Regions from separate parts of the Homo sapiens genome. Here region 2 is linked to region 1. The links come from fine-mapping of genetic effects on gene expression. Tissue or cell type: whole blood. Region 1 holds a variant in brackets; the other region holds the start of a gene. All regions are shown on one strand. Distances are between the middles of the regions.

Region 1 (8,000 bases):
AAGTCGTGGCTTAACAGAGCAGAGACTCCTGAGTGGAAACTGCTGTGAGAAACCAACACTAAGGTAAGAAAACCTGAATTCTAACCGATGAACTGCTGGAGGCTCAGACAAGTCTGAGAGTTAAACACTCCGGATGGGCCAACTCCTACAATATTGTGAGATTTACCTCCAGTAACCTGGCCAGATCCTCACATTAAATATCAGAGAAATAAACCCTTCTGCTTCTGGCTGGGAGAGGGGAAAAGAAACCATTTTGAAACATGACCTAGCACTGCTTTTCTTAATTAAGGCCTTCCTGCAGGAGAAACTAGTTAACCAGAGCCTAACTGACCTGGGGGAAGGAAATATCCAACTCCTGCCCACTCTAGTCATCCTGTCCCATCTAAGGGCGTAGGAAAAACTGAGAAACCCTTGTGATGTTCACAGTCCAGGGGCATAGGCTCACTGAAAGACTAAGACCTAATCACAGGACTAGCGAACACTTCTCCCCCATCATCTTACCATCGGGTTACTATAAGCCTATTTACAGCAATTCCTTTTACCTAGAACATTATATGTCCGACTATGAAGAAAAAATTAGAAGGCATACCAAAAGGCAAAAGATACAACTTGAAGAGACAGAGCAAGAATAAGGAACAGACATGGCAGGGATGTTGGAATCATCAGACCAGGAAGTTAAAACAACTATAATTAACACGCTGAAGGCTCTGACGGAAAAGGTAGCTAGAATTTAAGGACAGAGGGGAATGTAAGCAGAAAGATGGAAATCTGAAGAAACACTAAAAAGAAATGCTAGAGATCAAAAAATCACCGAAACAGAAATAAAGAATGCCTGTGATGGGCTTATTAGTAGACAGACATGGCTGAGAAAAGAATCTCTAGGCTTGAGATATTATCAAGAGAAACTCTGAAAATGGAAAAGCAAAGACAACAAAGACTGAAAGAAATAGAACAGAATTTCCAAGAACTGTGGGACAATTACAAAATGTGTCACACAGGCCGAGTACGGTGGCTCACACCTATAATCTCAGCACTCTGGAAGGCCGAGGCAGGAAGATCACTTGAGCCCAGAAGTTTGAGACCAGCCTAGACAACATAATGAGACCACATCCCCACAAAAAACGGAGGCACATGCCTGTAGTCCCGATTATTTGGGAGGCTGAGGTGGGAGAATGGCTTGGGTAAGAGTGAGACCCTGTCTCTAAAATAAATAAAAGGTGTAACATGTGTAATAAGAACACCAGAAAGAGAAGAAACAAAATAATATAAGAAATATTTGAAACAAGTGACTGAGAAATTCCCAGAATTAATATCAGACACCAAACCACAGATCCAGGAAGCTCAGAGAATACCAAACAGGATAAATGCCCCCAAAACCTACATGTAGGCATTTCATTTTCAAACTACAGAAAATAAAAAGATAAAGAACATTCCTGAAAGAAGCTGGGGAGGGGGGGAAACACCTTACGTATAGAGAAAAATAAAAATTATATCCAACTTCCCCTAAGAAACCATGCAAGCAAGAAGAGAGTACAGTGAAGTATTTAAAGTGCTGATAGGAAAAAAAACACCCGCCACCAACCTAGAATTCTGAATCCTATGAAAGTATTCTTTCAAAGGATAATAAAGGAGAGAAAAAGGCTTTCTCAGACAAAAATTCAGGGAATTTGTTGCTAATAGATCTGCCTTGCAAGAAACGTTAAAAGAAATTCTTTAGAGAGAAGGAAAATGATATGGGTCAGAAACTCAGACCTACATAAAGAGAAATGTTGAACAAAAACAAGGGTAAAATAAAACCTTTCCTTTTTCTTATTTTAAAATGATCTAACAGAGTTTGTTCAATAGCAACAATGTATTCAATTATGTATGCTGCTATAGATAGCTTATGTGTGTGTATATACATACATATATACAAATGCTTACTTATGCATGTATTTAAGTGAAATGAATGACAGCAATGACACACAGGACAGGAGGGAGGAATTAGGATTATTTTGTTATTATAAAGGTATCACATTACCTGTGAAGTGAAGTGGTATAGTGTTATTTGAAAGTGAATTCAGATTAGTAGTAAATGCACATTGCAAATTCTAGGGCAACCACTGGAAAGAAAAAGTAAAAAAAGAAGAATAACTGATATGCTAAGAAAGGAGAGAAAATGGAATAATACATAATGCTTAATTAAAACCACAAAGGGCAGAAAAAGAATGGAAGACAAAAATAGAAACAAAGAACGAGGGCAGCAAAAGCAGTGCTTAGAGGAAAATTTATAGCACTGAATGCCTATATTAGAAGAATAATCTAAAATAAAAAATCTAAATTTCCATCTTAGGAAACTATGAGTAAATTAAATCCAAAGTAAGCAGGAGAACATAAATAATAAGAATTAGAGTGGAAATTGAAATTGAAACAGGAAATCAACGGAGAAACAAATCAATGAAACCAAAAACTGGTTCTTTGAAGAGACCAATCAAAAGCTGATTAGCCTCTAGCCAAGCTAACAAAAAGGAGAGGATGGAAACGCTTAGTATCAGAAGTGAAAGAGGAGACATCACTACGGAGCCCACGAACATTAAAAGGATAACAATGGAAAACTATGAACAACTCTATGCCCACAAATTTGATAACCTAGATGAAATGGACAAAGTCCCTGAAAGATACAATCTGCCAAAACTCACAAGAAGAAATACTCAATCTGAATAAGACTCTATCACTGGTGAATTCTACCAAACATTTAAGCAAGACTATGCCAATTCTCTACAATCTCTTTCAGAGGACAGAAGCAGAGGGAATACTTCTTAGTAGTTCTTAACTCATTCTGTGAGGCCAGCATCCTTAATACCAAAACCAGACAAAGAACTTACAAGAAAACTACTGTCTGAGTCTGTTCGAGCTGCTCTAACAAAATACCATGAACTGTTTAGATTATGAACAACAGGAATTTATTTCTTCCAGTTCTGGTGGCCAAGATTAAGGTACTTGCATATTCAGTGCCTGGTGAGGGCCCACTTTCTCACAGATGGTGCCTTCTTGCTGTGTCTCATATGATGGAAGGAATGAGGCAGTTCTCTGGGGCCTCTTATATTGAGTAACTAACCCCATTCATGAGGGCTCTGCCTTATTAACCTAATCACATCCCAAAAGGTCCCACCTCCTGATGGTATGGATTTCAACACATGAATTTTTATTTTTTTGTGGGTGAGGAACATTCAGATCACAGCAACTACAGACCAACATCTCTCATGAACATAGATGCAAAAATCCTCAACAAAATATTAGCAAATGAAATCCAATGTATCAAATGCATAAAAAGAATATGTTGAAACCAAGTGCGATTTATCATAATTTATCAAAACAATGAGCTAAAGTAGAAAATCTCACAATATTAGTCGATACAGAAAGTGCATTTGACAAAATCCAACACCCATTCATGATAAAAGCTCTCAGTAAACTAGGAATAAAGGGGAACTTCCTCAACTTGATAAAGAGTATCTAAAAATGCCTATCGCTAACACCATACTTAATGGTATCCAGTTAGAAAGTCTTTATTCTCACTGGATGTGTCTAGTGTTTCCTCATGACCAGAGGCCATGAATTCTTGGCAGGAATACCACAGAAATGATGCCCTGTCTCAGTGAATAATATAGGCATGCTATATTGACCTGTTTCATCACAGGATGCCCTGGTCAAGACTGCGTCTGCCGGCTATCTACACCATGGTCACCATTTCCCCCTTTACATCTGAGTAATATTTTATGGGAAGAAATGTCAATATCATGACAACACCCTGTTCCTCATCAAACCTACAACTACTAGTCTCATATTGACTGATGACTCCTGTGTCTATCACCTAATGCTATTGTAGTATTACACCAATGTAGTGTAGTACTGTAGTATTACACCAATGTAAATGCTATTAGTAGTAGCATTTACTACTAATCTAATGGTTGCCAAATAGTTACTATTTCTACCATCCCTTCTATATTTACTAGTTGACCTTGTATGTAAGGAAGACTTTTCCCTTCTTTCCTATTTATCTATTCATTTATGTATATCAGTACAAACTTATGGATTCCTATTTTATACAAGTTTTTAACTAATATTAACATTATTTATTTTGTTGCTGACATTAGATTTTTGCCAGTGGGTATGCATTCAGGCTGGTTTCTGGGTCCTTCTGACATGACCTGTCATTCTTTGATTATTTACTTACTCTCTGGAAAGACAAGATGTTCTGTGTTCATCCT[G/C]TATGTTTGCTGCCCAGCCCTGGAAATGGCCATTTTTCTAAGCACTGATTTCTTTTAGTGGAGAGTGGCTTTAGAAACTATAATCTTGGAACTCACTGTGTTTATTACTGCTGGGTGTCATTGCCTCTAGAACCTCTCAGTACATACTACTAAGAAATATATGCATGCATACACACATACACACACAGAGAGAGACATATATTTATATATATAAACATACACGCTATAACTATTTCTATATATAAATTTTTAAACCCGTAAGTTCATACTGATAATTCCAATACTAACATGGTACGTTGGTGTTCTTTTCAGCTTTCACCTTTTAAATGTTTGTAAATCCCTTCAGGGAGTGAGAAAACTGGCTCTCCTTATCTTTAGGACATCTACTCATTTGCTAAATCAAATAACTTCTTTGCTCAATGTAACTAATCTCCCAACAACTGCAGTTGCCATCTCTGCACTCCCTCTCCTTACCTCTGCATCAGTCAGGTGCCAGGCACGCTGCTGGCCACGCTTCAGGTGCACTGTCTCCACAGGCAGTGGGAAGAGGGGATGGGAAGGTAAGGGGAGATGATCTCTACAAATATTTTTAATAACAAACTGGTACTTTCAAAAGACATTAAAATTTCAATAGACGTAAACTCTCTAGGGAAGGTTTTACATACAGTGTTGGTAAGCAGAACTGTATGATAAAAAGACCCAGGAGGCTGCTACAGAATCTGTGGGGCCCGGTGCAAAATGAGAACATGAGTCCTTGTGAAAAAAATTATTAATAATTTCAAGACGGTGACAGCAGAATATTAAGCCAAGTGCAAGACCCTATGAGACTGCATGGGTCACATATCCTTGAAGCTGGCCCTGATTACCAGAGAGCACAAGTCAGTGAGGACCTGGTAACAGAGGCATTCACATTGATGCTGACAATTCACAAATGTCCTCAAATTTACGTCTGCCACTATGAGAATGCAACATGGATTCAATGGTCTTTGGTAGTATCGTGCTGCGAGTATACCAGATGGAAGTTTTTCCTCATTAAGGAACAGAAATGTGGTAATTGCCAGTTTCAGTGACAAAGTCTTTTTCACTGAAAATGAAAAGAGATAATTCTATGTATGCTGAACATGTTCAATGGACAGAGTACTGCAGTAAGCAATCTGGACTATATAAGCAGGCATTGTTACAGTCTTCTAGGAGTTGAAAACCTAGATGAGATTACTGACTATCTGAGCTTGCTGCATTCATCTAGGTAGGAGTTAAAATTATTTTTACGTTTCTCCATTTGATTCAATCTAGTTCCACTTTCTTGGCCTGAAGATCGATTACATACAAGAACATTCACTGTTCTATTTCAACAGGTAACATTTCAAGCTTAGAGGTGCTGATATTTGCAATTTGCTCATCAGAAACCTTTCAAGTGATGTCTAGGCCTTTTTTTGTCTGCAGTTGCTCATACTTCAGAAACATGCTTGGGTTGTGAATTGGTATTCCTATTCTAATGTTTCATGATGATTTAAATATCACATCAGCAGACAGCTGTCAAATAGCCTGAGGGCAGCAACAGTTTAATATGGCTCCATCATGTGTCTGGACAGAATTTTACATTTAATCATTGACTGCACCCTTCAGGGCTGGAACACAGAATCTTCTATTAGGATGCTGCTTCATAAAAACACCCTGGAAGATGTTCCTAACTCAACTGTCATAAAACTAAAAAGTATAAATAGTCTTTTTAAAAAAAAGGTAATGGGTAGGGCAGGGTGGGGAAAATAACCAATTAAAAACATCAAGTAATCTATCAGTAAAATACAGTAAAATTTTAAAAGTGTGAAACATTGTGTTCTCACTCAAATTATCTTCCTTTCCTCCATTCTCCCTTCTGATACCTGCCTAAGTTTCTTCTTGGCCGGGCATGGTGGCTCACGCCTGTAATCCCAGCACTTTGGGTGGCCGAGGCAGGTGGATCACCTGAGGTCAGGAGTTCGAAACCAGCCTGGCCGACATGGCGAAACCCCGTCTCTACTAAAAGTATAAAAATTAGCTGGGCGCGGTGATGGGAGCCTGTAATCCCAGCTACTCAGGAGGATGAGGCAGGAGAATTGCTTGAACCTGTGAGGCGGAGGTTGCAGTGAGCTGAGATTGTGCCACTGCACTCCAGCCTAGGTGACAAGGGTTAGACTTCGTCTCAAAACAACAACAAAAAAAAGGTCCTTCTCCACATAAACCTTGTAAGTTCAGCTTCACCAGTCAACAGTGTGTTGCCTATAATTGGTGGAAGCTGCCACTAGGTGAACCTCCATGGAGGCTATGCAGATTTTCTAAAGGCACTGAACAGAAAGACACAAATGATTTTCCTTTACAATGATTTCAAACAAAAATAAATAAACTATAATTATTAAAAATCATCTGGACTAAATATCCTGGAAGGAGACTTTTCTCCTTTGCCAGTGGTTTCTTCCTAGCAAGACATAACTAATATCAAATTAAACAGAGTCAGGGTGCTTAACTGTAGTCTTAAGACTAACAGCAATTTTCTACAGTCTCAGAATTGCTCTAAAACTTTAAGGCTGAAGCTAGAAAAAAACATTGCTGAGTAAAATCCCCATGAGTCTCTCTTCCCAAATCAGAAAGCTTCTCAGCCACTTGATGCTGTATAAACACTCAGCCTTCTCATACACATTTGACTATAATGTTTAAGTTAGCAATTAACATTTTTCTGAGCACTTTTATTTCAAAATTTTACTATCTAGCTTTTGATACAGGTTTCTTTTTTATTTTATTTTTTTTTGAGATGGAGTCTCACTCTGTCACCAGGCTGAGTGCAGTGGCACGATCTCAGCTCACTGCAACCTCTGCCTCCCAGGTTCAAGCAATTCTACTGCCTCAGCCTCCCAAGTAGCTGGGATTATAGGTGCCCACCACCACACTCAGCTAATTTTTTTTGTATTTTTAGTAGAGACAGGGTTTTGCCATGTTGGCCAGGCTGGTCTTGAACTCCTGACCTCAGGTGATCTGCCCGCCTTGGCCTTCCAAACTGCTGGGAAAACAGGCGTGAGCCACCACGCCCAGCCTGATACAAGTTTCTTTCTAAAAGTCTAGACATTTTAGATAATGTCTGAATTCCAAAATTCTAGTTACCAAATTCTAGTTCTATCTGAATATAAATTTTGAAACACTTTGAAATGGAATTTCAGGGTTTTTGTTTTTGGAGACAGGGTCTTACTCTGTTGCCTAGGCTGGAGTGCAGTGGAGCAATTACATCTTATTGCAGCCTCAACCTCCCAGGCTCAAGTGATTCTCCCACCTCAGACTCCTGAGCAGCTGGGACTACAGGCATGTGCCACCTCATCTGGCTAATTTTTAAAATGTTTTTATTTATTGGTAGAGATGAGGTTTCACCGTGTTTCCCAGGCTGGTCTTGAACTCCTAGGCTCAAGCGATCTACCTGCCACGGCCTCCCGAAGTGCTGGGATTACACACGAGAGCCACTGTGCCTGGCCGAATTTAAGGTTTTTAAATAGAGATATGAAGCTGTTTTACTAGAAAACAGCTATCAGATTGTTATTATGTGCTAAGTGTCCTATACGAACATGAATGTGGCCTCTTGGTTCCCTAGTCTCCTATTCGTTTGGGTGAGAGGAAAGAATTCAAAATGAGGCAACATTTATGAACTTTTTCTGAGCTTTCTCAATAAAAAGACAATATTTATAATCCAAATTTCATGACTGGCAAATTAAATATAAACATACAACTGAT
Region 2 (11,258 bases), 64 kb after region 1:
ATGGCTCAGAATAAATCTCTTCAAGTATTTTACAGAGTTTGACTCTTTTTGTCAACTCTTCCATGAACATCTTTTATGACAGGGCCCTCCAACTCTCTTGGTTTCTCTTCTCTTTCTTTTGTGAACTCTGTCTCTGCCTCACCTCAGAATACTAGTGTTCCATGGGGGTCACTCAGCCTTGTCTCTCCAAGGTGATCCCCAGAGCACCACGTGTTTGCTCCCAGGTTTCCAGTCCAACCCCAACTTTTCCCCTATTTGATATCTTGTTAGATTTGGGTGTCTAATAGGCATCTCAAACTTAACATGTCCCAAACAGAACTCTATTATTACTCCAGATCTGCTCTTCCTTATCTAATGGCACCATCCTCTACCTCTTCCCTGTTTTATCTCAGAGAGGGGAGGGAGATAGGTGGTTAAAGGTATAATTTTAAATAGGGGTTACAGTAGGCCTTATTGACAATGTGATATTTGAGCTAATACTTGATGTGTAGATATGTGGGAAAGAGTATTTCTGGCTAAGATAATGGTTAGTGCAAAGGTCCTAGGTGAAGGTCAGGCGCAGTGGCTCACGCCTGTAATCCCAGCACTTTGGGAGGCTGAGGCAGGCAGATCACAAGGTCAAGAGATCAAGACCATCCTGGCCAACATGGTGAAACCCTGTCTCTACTGAAAATACAAAAATTAGCTGGGCATGGTGGCACGCGCCTGCACTCCCAGCTACGCGGGAGGCTGAGGCAGGAGAATTGGGAGGTGGCAGTTGCAGTGAGCCTAGATCTCACACCACTGCACTCTAGCCTGGTGACAGAGCGAGACTCCATCTCAAAAAAGAAAAAAAGTCCTAGGTGAGAGGATGTCTGGGGTGTTCAAGGAGACTGAGGAGGCTGACATCACGGGAGCAGTGGGTGAGGCAATGTGAAAGAGAGGTCAGAGGAGTGGCGCATGGGACAGGGGGCAGTGCAGCTCATGTAACACCTTGTGGGCCATTGAAAAGCCTTTGGCTTTTACCCTAATTGAGATGGGGAGCCACTGGTGTTTTTAGCAGAGAATTGAATGGATCTGATCTGTAATTTAAAAGCATGTCTATTTGCTGCATTGAGAATAGACTGTGGGAGGGGGTTGGTGTGGAAGTGGGGAGATCAGGTGGGTGGCGGTTACCATAGCCAGGCCAATGATTCCCAAACTTTGCTGCAATTGGAATCACCTGGAGAGCAGTGAAAAATTCCCAGTGCCCAGATTACATCCCACACCTATTAAATCAGAATATCAAGGGGTGGGAGTCAGGCATTAGCATGTTTAAAAGATCCTGGGTTATTCCAACGTGCAGCAAAACTTAGGAACCACTGAATGAGGCCAGAGATTATTGAGACTCAAATCGGGGTAGTCAGCAGTGAAGGTGGTGAGAAGTGTTCAGATTCTGAATATAATTTGAAGATTTCAACAAGACTTTTTGACAGATCAGATGTGGAATATGAAAGGCAGACAGCAACATCAAATGTGACACCAAAGCTTTTTGACCAAGGGACTGGAAAAATGTAGTTATCATTAGATGAAATGGAGAAAATTAGGTGGAGAGGTGTTTCAAGGGACTGGCGGGGATTGGTTTGAACTTGTATTTTCGGATGACTAGTGAACAGGAAGACACGAAAGAGGTTGACACTGGATATCAGTCGAGAGCCATCGGTATGTGAACGAAATTGAAAGCTACGAAACAGGGTGGCTGTGGAAAGGAAAGAGACCGAAGATGAAGCCTTGGGGTATTTTATTATTAACAGGTTGAGAAGCGAGGGAATAACCAGTGAAGGAGACTGAGGAGCACTTCCAGGGAGATGGGATGAAAACTAGGGGAGTGGTTATCTGAAAGCCAAGTGTAGGAGGTTTGTCAAACAGGAGGGAATGATCAACCAGGTCAAATGCTCCTGATGGCTCAAGAAAGATAAAGGTTGAAAATTGACCAGGATCATTGTGGACTTTGACAAGAACAGCTTTAATGGGATGGGAAGGGTGAAGGCTTGACTGGAATAGGTTTATATTAGCTTGAGAGGAAAGGAATTTGAGACAGTAAGTAGAGACAACTCTTTTGAGGAGTTGTGGGGTTTTGTTTGTTTTTTTGGAGACAGGGTCTTGCTCTGTCACCCAGGCTGGAGTGCAGTGGTACAATCACAGCTCACTGCAGCCTCGACCTCCCAGGCTCAAGTGATCCTTCCATCTCAGCCCCTCAAGTAGCTGGGACTATAGGCATGCACCACCATGCCTGGCTAATTTTTATTTTTATTTTTTGTAGAAACAGGGGTTTCCTTATGTTGCCCAGACTGGTCTTGAACTCCTGGGTTCAAGTGATCCTCCTGCCTCAGCCTCCCAAAGTGCTGACACCATGCCCAGCCTAGGAGTTTTGTCATAAAGAAGTGCAGAGAAATATACTAATACCTGGCAGGGAAATGGAGGTCCAGGGAGTGTTTGTTAAGGTGGAATGAATGACATCAAATCTGTTCACAGATGGGAATAATCCAGTGGAGAGTGAAAGTTTGGTGAATTAGAGAAGAGGAGGAAGTACTCTACATGGTTCTTCAGTTAGAGAGAGGGATGGAATCTGGTGCACAGAGAAGGGATTGGCCTTTAATGGGTGCATGGATAGTTCATCTAGCAACAGGCTGGAGGGCAGAGCACCGGATAGGTGGTTGGGGGTGATGATGAGGCTCTGTGGACGGTCTCATTGCTTCAGTGTTTTCAGTGAGCTCAATGGAAATTCAGCCTGAGAGAATGGAGAAACATCTAACAGGCCTAGCATTCAGGCGTCCAATAGCAGGTGCCAAGGACTACCATAAAGAACCCCAGAGGCTGGACCCAGTGGCTTACACCTGTAATCCCAACACTTTGGGAGGCCAAGATGGGAGGATCGCTTGAGCTCAGGAGTTTGAGTTCAGCCTGGGTAACATAAGGAGACCTCATCTCTACTAAAGTTTTGTTTTGTTTTTGTTTTTCTTTTTTTGTTTTTTGTTTTTTTAAGCTAAGTGTGGTGGCACATGCCTGTAGTCCCAGCTGCTTGGGAGGCTGAGGTGGGAGGATCACTTGAGCCCAGGAGGTTGAGGTTGCAGTGAGCCGTGATAACGCCACTACACTTCAGCCTGGGTGACAGAGTGAGACCCTGTCTAAAACAAACAAACAAAAACAAGCAAACAAATAAAGGAACTCAGGAAGCTTTATTTTTTTATTTTTTGAGATGGAGTCTCCCTTTGTCGCCCAGGCTGGAGTGCAGTGGCCTGATCTTGGCTCACTGCAACCTCTGCCTCCCATGTTCAAGCAATTCTCCTGCCTCAGCCTCCTGAGTAGCTGGGACTACAGGCACACACTGCCATGACCGGCTAGATTTTGTATTTTTAGTAGAGACAGGGTTTCACCATGTTGGCTAGGCTGGTCTCAAGCTCCTGACTTCAGGTGATCTGTCCACCTCGGCCTCCCAAAATGCAGGGATCACAGGTGTGAGCCACTGGGCCTTGCCCCAGGAAGCTTTAAAAATGCTCAAAATTAATTTTAATAATTAAGTAATTTAGTAGCATTTGTGGTTAACTGTTGAAGCTAAGAAATAGCCAGTAGAGGGAGAGCTGAGCACACGTGACATGAATGTAAGCGTAAGGTGTGATTTTGCCTAGAGAGATCAGTATAAGACTCAGCATCCAGGATGGCATTTGTGCTGACTTTCTTTGTTCTGAACTTTAGCCTGGTGTTTCTGTGGTTTTCTTATGGAGGAGGGACGTCATCTTGCCAAAAGTTCAAAGCAGTTTTTAAGACCACAGTCTAAACATTTATCTTCAATTCTTTCCCTGTTCTGACCTCTTTACCTTCTGAATCCCCTCTTCAGACTAAATACATACCTAGAGTACTGAGGGTTGTCTTGGTAATGACTGAGTTGGCCTTTAAAGGTAACATACACCCTTGGCCCAGCACAGTAGCTCATACCTGTAATCCCAGCACTTTGGGAGGCCAAGGTGGGCGGATCATATGAGATCAGGAGTTCGAGACCAGCCTGGCAAACATGGTGAAACCCTGTCTCTACTAAAATTAAAAAAAAAAAAAGTCAGGCATGGTGACGCACCCCTGTAGTCCCAGCTACTCAGGAGGCTGAGGCAGGAAAATCTCTTGAACCCGGAAGACGGAGGTTGCAGTGAGCTGAGACGGCGCCACTGCACTCTAGCCTGGGTGACAGAGCAAGACTGTGTCTCACAAAAAAAAAAAAAAGGTAACACACACCCTGAAGCTGAGGGTTCAAGGGACAACTTTTTCCCTGTATGTGATGTGATGGTTTGGGTTGCCAGACACAGCAAAGTGGAGTGGGTTTTATTTTCTTCTCTCCTGGACAGCACTTTCAAATTTTTGTTTTCTGGGTTTATTAAAAATATGAATTTAAAATTAGATGGGCGTGATGGAGCATGACCATGGTCCCAGCTACCCAGGAGGCTGAGGTGGGAGGATGGCTTGAGCCTGGGAGGTCGAGGCTGCTGTGAGCTATGATCACGCCACTGCACTCCAGGCTGGGTGACAGAGCAAGACCTTGTCTCTAACTAAATAAAGACATAAAAATATACGGATTTAAAATTTAAGTTCCAGAAAGAGGTGTAAAGCGGTATATCACTCATTTCTACACTCAAACAATCCAATGTTGTTTTATTTTTGGCAAATGTTATTTTTGGTGAATTTTAAGACTTTGGGTCAAGAATAACTTTATATTTATTATCTCATATCCTCCATCTCTCCCAGTCATGTCTTATAGTTGGGTGTCGGGGAGCCAGTGCTTTGTCTGTCTTGGAACTGGGGCATTTTTCCTGTCTGCTCCAGTGAACCAGTCATCTGAATATTGTTCACCCTCAGAGAAAAGATGCTGTGGAAGGATGCAGTGATGCACTTGGAAAGGAAAAAAGACATCTGTCTACTTGTAGGAACATGGCAGAGAAGGGTGCAAGATCCCCGTTTCATGTACCATTTAGATTTTTTTTTTTTTCGAGATGTAGTCTTGCTCCATCATCCAGGTTGGAGTGCAGTGGCGCGATCTTGGCTCACTGCAACCTCCACCTCCCAGGCTCAAGTGATTCTCTTGCTTCAGCCTCCTGAGTAGCTGGGACTACAGGGTTCTGCCACCACGCCTGGCTGATTTTTTTTTTTTTTTTGTATTTTTAGTAGAGTCAAGGTTTCACCATGTTGGCCAGGCTGCTGTTGTACTCCTGACCTCAAGTGATCTGCCTGCCTCAGCCTCCCAAAGTGCTGGGATTACAGGAGTGAGCCACCGTGCCTGGTGAATTTAGATTTAAGTGAAAGAAGACAGAATAAATCAGTATCTGTGGGAGGAGACCATGGTAAATAGCTCCCTGATGGCAAGTTGGTTTCACTTCTGCTGTGTAAACGTGGCTTTGTGATTGTGGCCCAAAGGGCTACGTACCCCAGCTGGTTCCAAATACCTGAACCAAGGAGAAGCTGCCACCATCTCCTCTGTGGACTCCTGTAACCAAACCAGAACTTTTTTTTTTTTTTTCTGTTCAGTGACATCTGGTAAGTTGTTTCTTTTATGTAATTTGTACTGTAACTTGTGGTTGATTTTTTAAAAATGGACCTTAATTTTTAGAACAGTTTTGAGTTTACAGGAATATTGAGAAGATAGTTTAGAGCATTCCCATGTAATTCCCACCCAACTTCCCCATTATCTTGTATTAGTGTGGTACATTTGTTACAACTGATGAACCGATACTGATACGTTATTCTTAAACTAAAGTCTGTGCTTGATTCAGATTCTTGGTTTTTATCTAACGTCTGCTTTCTACTGTGGCATCCTATCAGGATAGCACATTATATTTAGTTATGTTCCCTTAGGCTCCTCTTAGCTGTAGCGTTGTTTCTCAGACTTTCCTTGTTTTTGATGAATATGGCAGTTTTGAGGAGTACTGGTTGGGTATTTTGTAGGCTTCTCCTATTGGCATTTGTCTGATGTTTTTCTCATTATTAGACTGGAGTTATGGGTTTTGGGGAAGGAGTCCCAGAGTTAAAGTGCTGTTCTCATCACATCATATCAAGGGATAATATTGTCAACATGATTTAGGACTGTTGGTGTTGACCTTGACCACCTGGTAGAGGCAGCGCTTGTCTGGTTTCTCTGCTATAAGGTGATCCTTTCCCTGCTCCAATCTCCGCCGTGTTCTCTTTGGAAAGAAGCTGCTATGCACAGCACACACTTAAGGAGCAGGGAGTTTTATTCTACCTCCTTGAGGATGGAGTAGCTACGTAAATTATTTGGAATTCTTCTGTATATGGGACATTTGTCTCTTCTCTCTCCTTTGATTTTCTTAAAGCAAGTTATTTCTTGAGGGAAAGTGAATTTTACTTTTCTGTTTGCTTAAGTGAATTTTGGGGGTTTGGTTTGTTTGTTTTTGAGGCTTCGGTCTGTTACCCAGGCTGGAGTGCAGTGGTATGAACATGGCTCACTGTAATCTTCACCTTCTGGGCTCAAGTAATCCTCCTGCCTCAGCCTCCTGAATAACTGGGACTACAGATACATGCTGCCATGCCCAGCTAATTAAAAAAAAAATTGTAGAGATGAGGGTCTCACTTTGTTGCCAAGGCTGGTCTCAAGCTCCTGGGCCCAAGGGATCCCCTCTCCTCTCAGCCTCCCAAAGTGCTGGGATTACAGGCATGAGCCACCATGCTCAGGCTGTTTAAGTGAATTTTAAGGCTATGTAAAAAGGCCAGTGGGCTAGAAATGGGGAGAATCAGGTTTTAGTTTGAATTTTACAGAACAGTGTGATCTTAGGCAAGTCATTAATCATTCCTCCCAAAAGAAAACAGCTATTGCAGAAATTGCTGGCAGGTGTATGAATTCCTGATAAGGAGGGAAGTGTCATCTTATGCCTCATTAGCTTTAACAAGCTTGGGAGAGCAATATGAGAAGATTCAAATTCGTTTCGCTAGAATCTGCTAAAGTACGTTATGAAAATATCTGCTTATTTTGCTTACCTCTTTACCTAGGGAAGAAAGATGGAGAAAAACATGTCATCCTAAAGCCTCCCTTCTACTACGACTGCTTCTGGTGGCCACATTTCTAATTCTGAACACATTAGCCGATGTGTTAATGCTGAAAACATACCTCTTTTCCTTTAGAGATTTGGAGGCCCTTGTTTCACTTTTGCTTCTGAGCTAATGTGTTTAAATTGCTGCCTTGGGACATCCCTAGTTTGGAAGAGCAGTGCAGTGGCCAACGAGGTGGTTAGGAAATGTTGCCAACACCAAAGTTACTTAAACCTAAACCCAAACTCAAAGAGAAAGGAAATAAATTCTAAATTTCATCAACATTCTATCATTTCATTAACAGTCTCCTCCTCTTCCTTCTTTCATTCTTCAGCTCACCTTCTTGTGAGAGCAAGAAAAAACTTGACCAAAGATTGTTTTTTTTTTTTTTGAGATGGAGTCTCACTCTGTTGCCCAGGCTGGAGTGCAGTGGCATGATCTCAGCTCACTGCAACCTCCGCCTCCCGGGTTCAAGCGATTCCTCTGCCTTAGCCTCCTGAGTAGCTGGGACTACAGGCATGTGCCACAACGGCTGGCTAATTTTTTGTATTTTTAGTAGAGACAGAGTTTCACCGAGTTAGCCAGGATGGTCTCAAACTCCTGACCTCATGATCTGCCCGGCTCAGCCTCCCAAAATGTTGGGATTACAGGTGTGATCCACTGCACCCAGCTGATCGAAGATTCTTTAAGGAAGATGGTAGAGCATCCTCAATGTGTTTGATCAATAGGGACAAGAACGGGAGTCAGAATCTCAGCTAAGGTGGCATCTGTTCCCCAAAGACTAACAGACGTGGCCTGGATGACACTAGTACTGATTTCTAGTTTAACTACCTTCATAAAATATTCAAAAAATAACATTTGTACAGATGCATAAGTGCCTGCAGAGCAATTTTGCATTCATTATCACATTTAATTCTCACAACGAACTCTTTTTTATTTTTTATTTTTTTGACGTGGAGTCTCGCTCTGTTGCCCAGGCTGGAGTGCAGTGGTGCGATCTCAACTCACTGCAACCTCTGTTTCCTGGCTTCAAGTGACTCTCCTGCCTCAGTCTCCCAAGCAGCTGGAATTACAGGCATGCTGCACCATGCCCAGGTAATTTTTGTATTTTTAGTAGAGACAGGGTTTCACCATGTTGACCAGGCTGGTCTCGAACTCCTGACCTCAAGTGATCGGCCCACCTTGGCCTCCCAAGGTGCTAGAATTACAGGCATGAGCCACCATGCCTGGCCAATGAATTCTTGATACAGGTATTTTTTTTAAAACCAATTCTATCCTATATGTGGAGAAATAGAGGCTCAGAGAGATCAGGTGATTTGCTCTGTGTTGCATTGAAGATTGGGAGCAGGAGCAAAAATCCAGGCATTCTGACTCCAAATCCCTAATAATTTTTGCTCCACCATTCACATCTGGAATATGGAAGCCCTTTGTTTGCAGATACTGTGACCACATTGTTTCCTGCTGTACCCCCAGTATCTAGAACAGTGCCTGGTGCATCATAGGCACTCACAAATATTTGTTGAATGAATGGATGGATAAATAAAATAGTAAATATAATTTCTGCTATTCTTGATCTTACCATCTAAGATATATATCTATATCTAGATCTAGATAGATCTATCTAGATATAGATACAAAAAATTATATCTATCATCATTCATTCAACAAATTATTTAGTGCTTGCTGTGTACCAAGTACTTCCCATATTTATTAAAAGTAGAGAGTAAACCAATGTTAATGACCAAAATGCCCCTTTGAGAAACTTTGCTAATTTAAGCATTTAAATTTAAGTAAGTAAATAGTGTTGGCAAGGGTTAATGATGCGAGGCAAGGTAGGGTGAAATGAGATTCTGCCTAAGGAGAATAACTAGGGGAAAAGAAAAGGACATTTGTCATTTGTAATAAACACATTGAATTTTGCATTGAACACAGAAAAAATGCAGTGAAAATGTATTCCTCTGATAGTCTCTCTCTCTCTCTCTGGCTTGTTTTACTTCTGAGGGTGTCTTCAAGTTTGCAGGCAGTAAGGTTGGGCATGGTGGCTCATGCCTGTAATCCCAGCACTTTGGGAGGCCAAGGTAGGCAGATCACCTGAGGTCAGGGGTTCGAGACCAGCCTGGCCAACATAGTGAAACCTTGTCTCTACTAGAGATACAAAAATTAGCCGGGCATGGTGGCAGGTGCCTGTAATCCCAGCTACTCGGGAGGCTGAGGCAGGAGAATCGCTTGAACCTGGGAGGCGGAGGTTGCAGTGAGCTGAGATCATGTGCCACTGCACTCCAGCCTGGGCGATAGAGCAAAAACTCCATCTCAAAACAAACAAACAAACAAACAAAAAAACAAAGAACAACAAAAACAAAAACAAAAAAGCAGTTTGCAGGCAGTAGCTTCAGCTTCAGTTCCTGCATACAATTCTATCAAGTTGCTACTCTCTCTCCCCACTCAACAGCCTTCCTTCTCATGAAATGCCTTTGCCATGCATTTGAGGGAACCCTCCTTTGCGGGCACTACTCCTTCCATTGCCCTATGCCTGAGCTCCAGGGGGCTTGTTTAAATAGTGCCTATTAGAGGCTGCTGAATGTGATGAAAAGAACATTGAACTTGGAGTCAGGAAAACTGAGTTTCAGCCCTCATTGCCATAATCTTACTATGTGACCTTGGACAAGTTTCTTCCCCTTCCTGGTCCTCAGGGTCTGGATCTGTAGAAGAAGGGGCCCTAGCATTCTTTTTTTTAAGACGAAATCTCGCTTTGTTGCCCAGGCTGGCAGTGGCGTGATCTCGGCTCACTGCAACCTCCACTTCCTGGGTTCAAGCAATTCTCCTGCATCAGCCTCCTGAGTAGCTGGGATTACAGGCGCGTGCCACCACACCGGGCTAATTTTTGTATTTTTAGTAGAGATGGGGTTTCACCATGCTGGTCAGGCTGGTCTCAAACTCCTGACCTTGTGATCCACCTGCTTCAGCCTCCCAAAGTGCTGGGATTACAGGCGAGAGCCACCGCACCCGGCCCGCATTCTTTATTCAATGCCATGATATGCAGCTGTTCTAGTACAGGAATGACCTGCGTTTGTGTTGCCTCTGTGATTTTCCTGTAAGAAAAAAAACAATAAGCAAACACAAACAGAAGAAAAGGAGGGGGAGAGAAGCAAGAATAACTGTGAAAAGTTACAATTATTTATCAGGAAATCAGTTCTGTGCAGCCTTCCTATATCTAGCTGAATGTGCACAGTCTTATTTAAAAGATGCTATTCTTAGGTTCAGTGCACATGAATGTAAATAAGCACTAAAAGCAAAACTTCAGTGCTAACCACATAGCTGAAATACAAGCAAAATAAACCACACAGGCAGAACCTTGCTTATCTGAGCAATAAATTTGGACTGTTATCAATTGCTTCTCCACAGAAACCAAATTTTCACAATGAACACCACCATTCCTTCCCTTTGGGGGGAAATAGACTGCAGGATGATTTGAAGAAGGACTATACTCCTGTAGCTCATTTTCTCCTTAATACAATGCACTTGAAATCACAGTGCTCTTGGTGTACTGCTCTTGGCCACACGGAAGCCCTAATCATTGGTACGGTCTCAGTTTCAATGACAGGTGACATTTTCAAAATGAGAATTTGTGTCTTTTTAGCACCCATCTAAATCAGAGAACACTCACACTTTAAGGACTAGTTCAGTCTTTGCCTTACACATGGGAAACCTGAGGCCAGGGTGATAAAACGACTTGTCTTAAGTCCTCCAGCTTTATTGATGGGTGGTAAAGCTGGAGCTGGAAGCTTCCACACCAGATTTCCAGCCTAATGTTCTTCCCACCTCATCATTTAGTTCAACCCAATGACTATATACTGAATGTCTGTACCAAACTACCCCCATTTGTTTATCGCTTTTCCTTTTTATGTACTTGGTGTTTATTTTCTTCTGTCCTCTTAGCCTTTTTGCAAATGATCCCTTTCCATTTGCTAGTGTTTTTGTTTGGTCATCAAATGATCCCTTCCTGCCAGTCTTTGAACATTGGCCAAAGGAATTTGAAGCCCAATCCACCACAACCAAACCACATAATTTCCAATGATTCCAAATTTCAGTTAGAGTTCACAAATTACTTGTATACAGAAACCATAGATGCTGCTACGGAGGAAGTTGTGTGGTTTTCTGTCTTCATTGCATGCAGCTAAACCCAAACCAACCCCAGCTAGTTACATGCTAACGGC

What was found. PIP is the estimated chance that this variant, and not a neighbour inherited with it, causes the effect.
Region 2: NUGGC starts here. The variant in region 1 is fine-mapped to the expression of NUGGC in whole blood (INTERVAL, PIP 0.96).

The regions. Positions count from the first base shown.
Region 1 is chr8:28,144,072-28,152,071 of GRCh38, reverse strand. All of the region lies in intron 10 of ELP3 (elongator acetyltransferase complex subunit 3), which reads right to left. Among named protein-coding and RNA genes, the nearest start is that of ELP3, 55 kb to the right of the region's middle. The variant G/C (reference allele first, on the strand shown) is at 4,248.
Region 2 is chr8:28,078,055-28,089,312 of GRCh38, reverse strand. It overlaps NUGGC (nuclear GTPase, germinal center associated), which reads left to right and starts at 5,377. Exons shown (of 19, transcript NM_001010906.2): 1 at 5,377-5,538. RefSeq lists an enhancer at 10,090-10,219.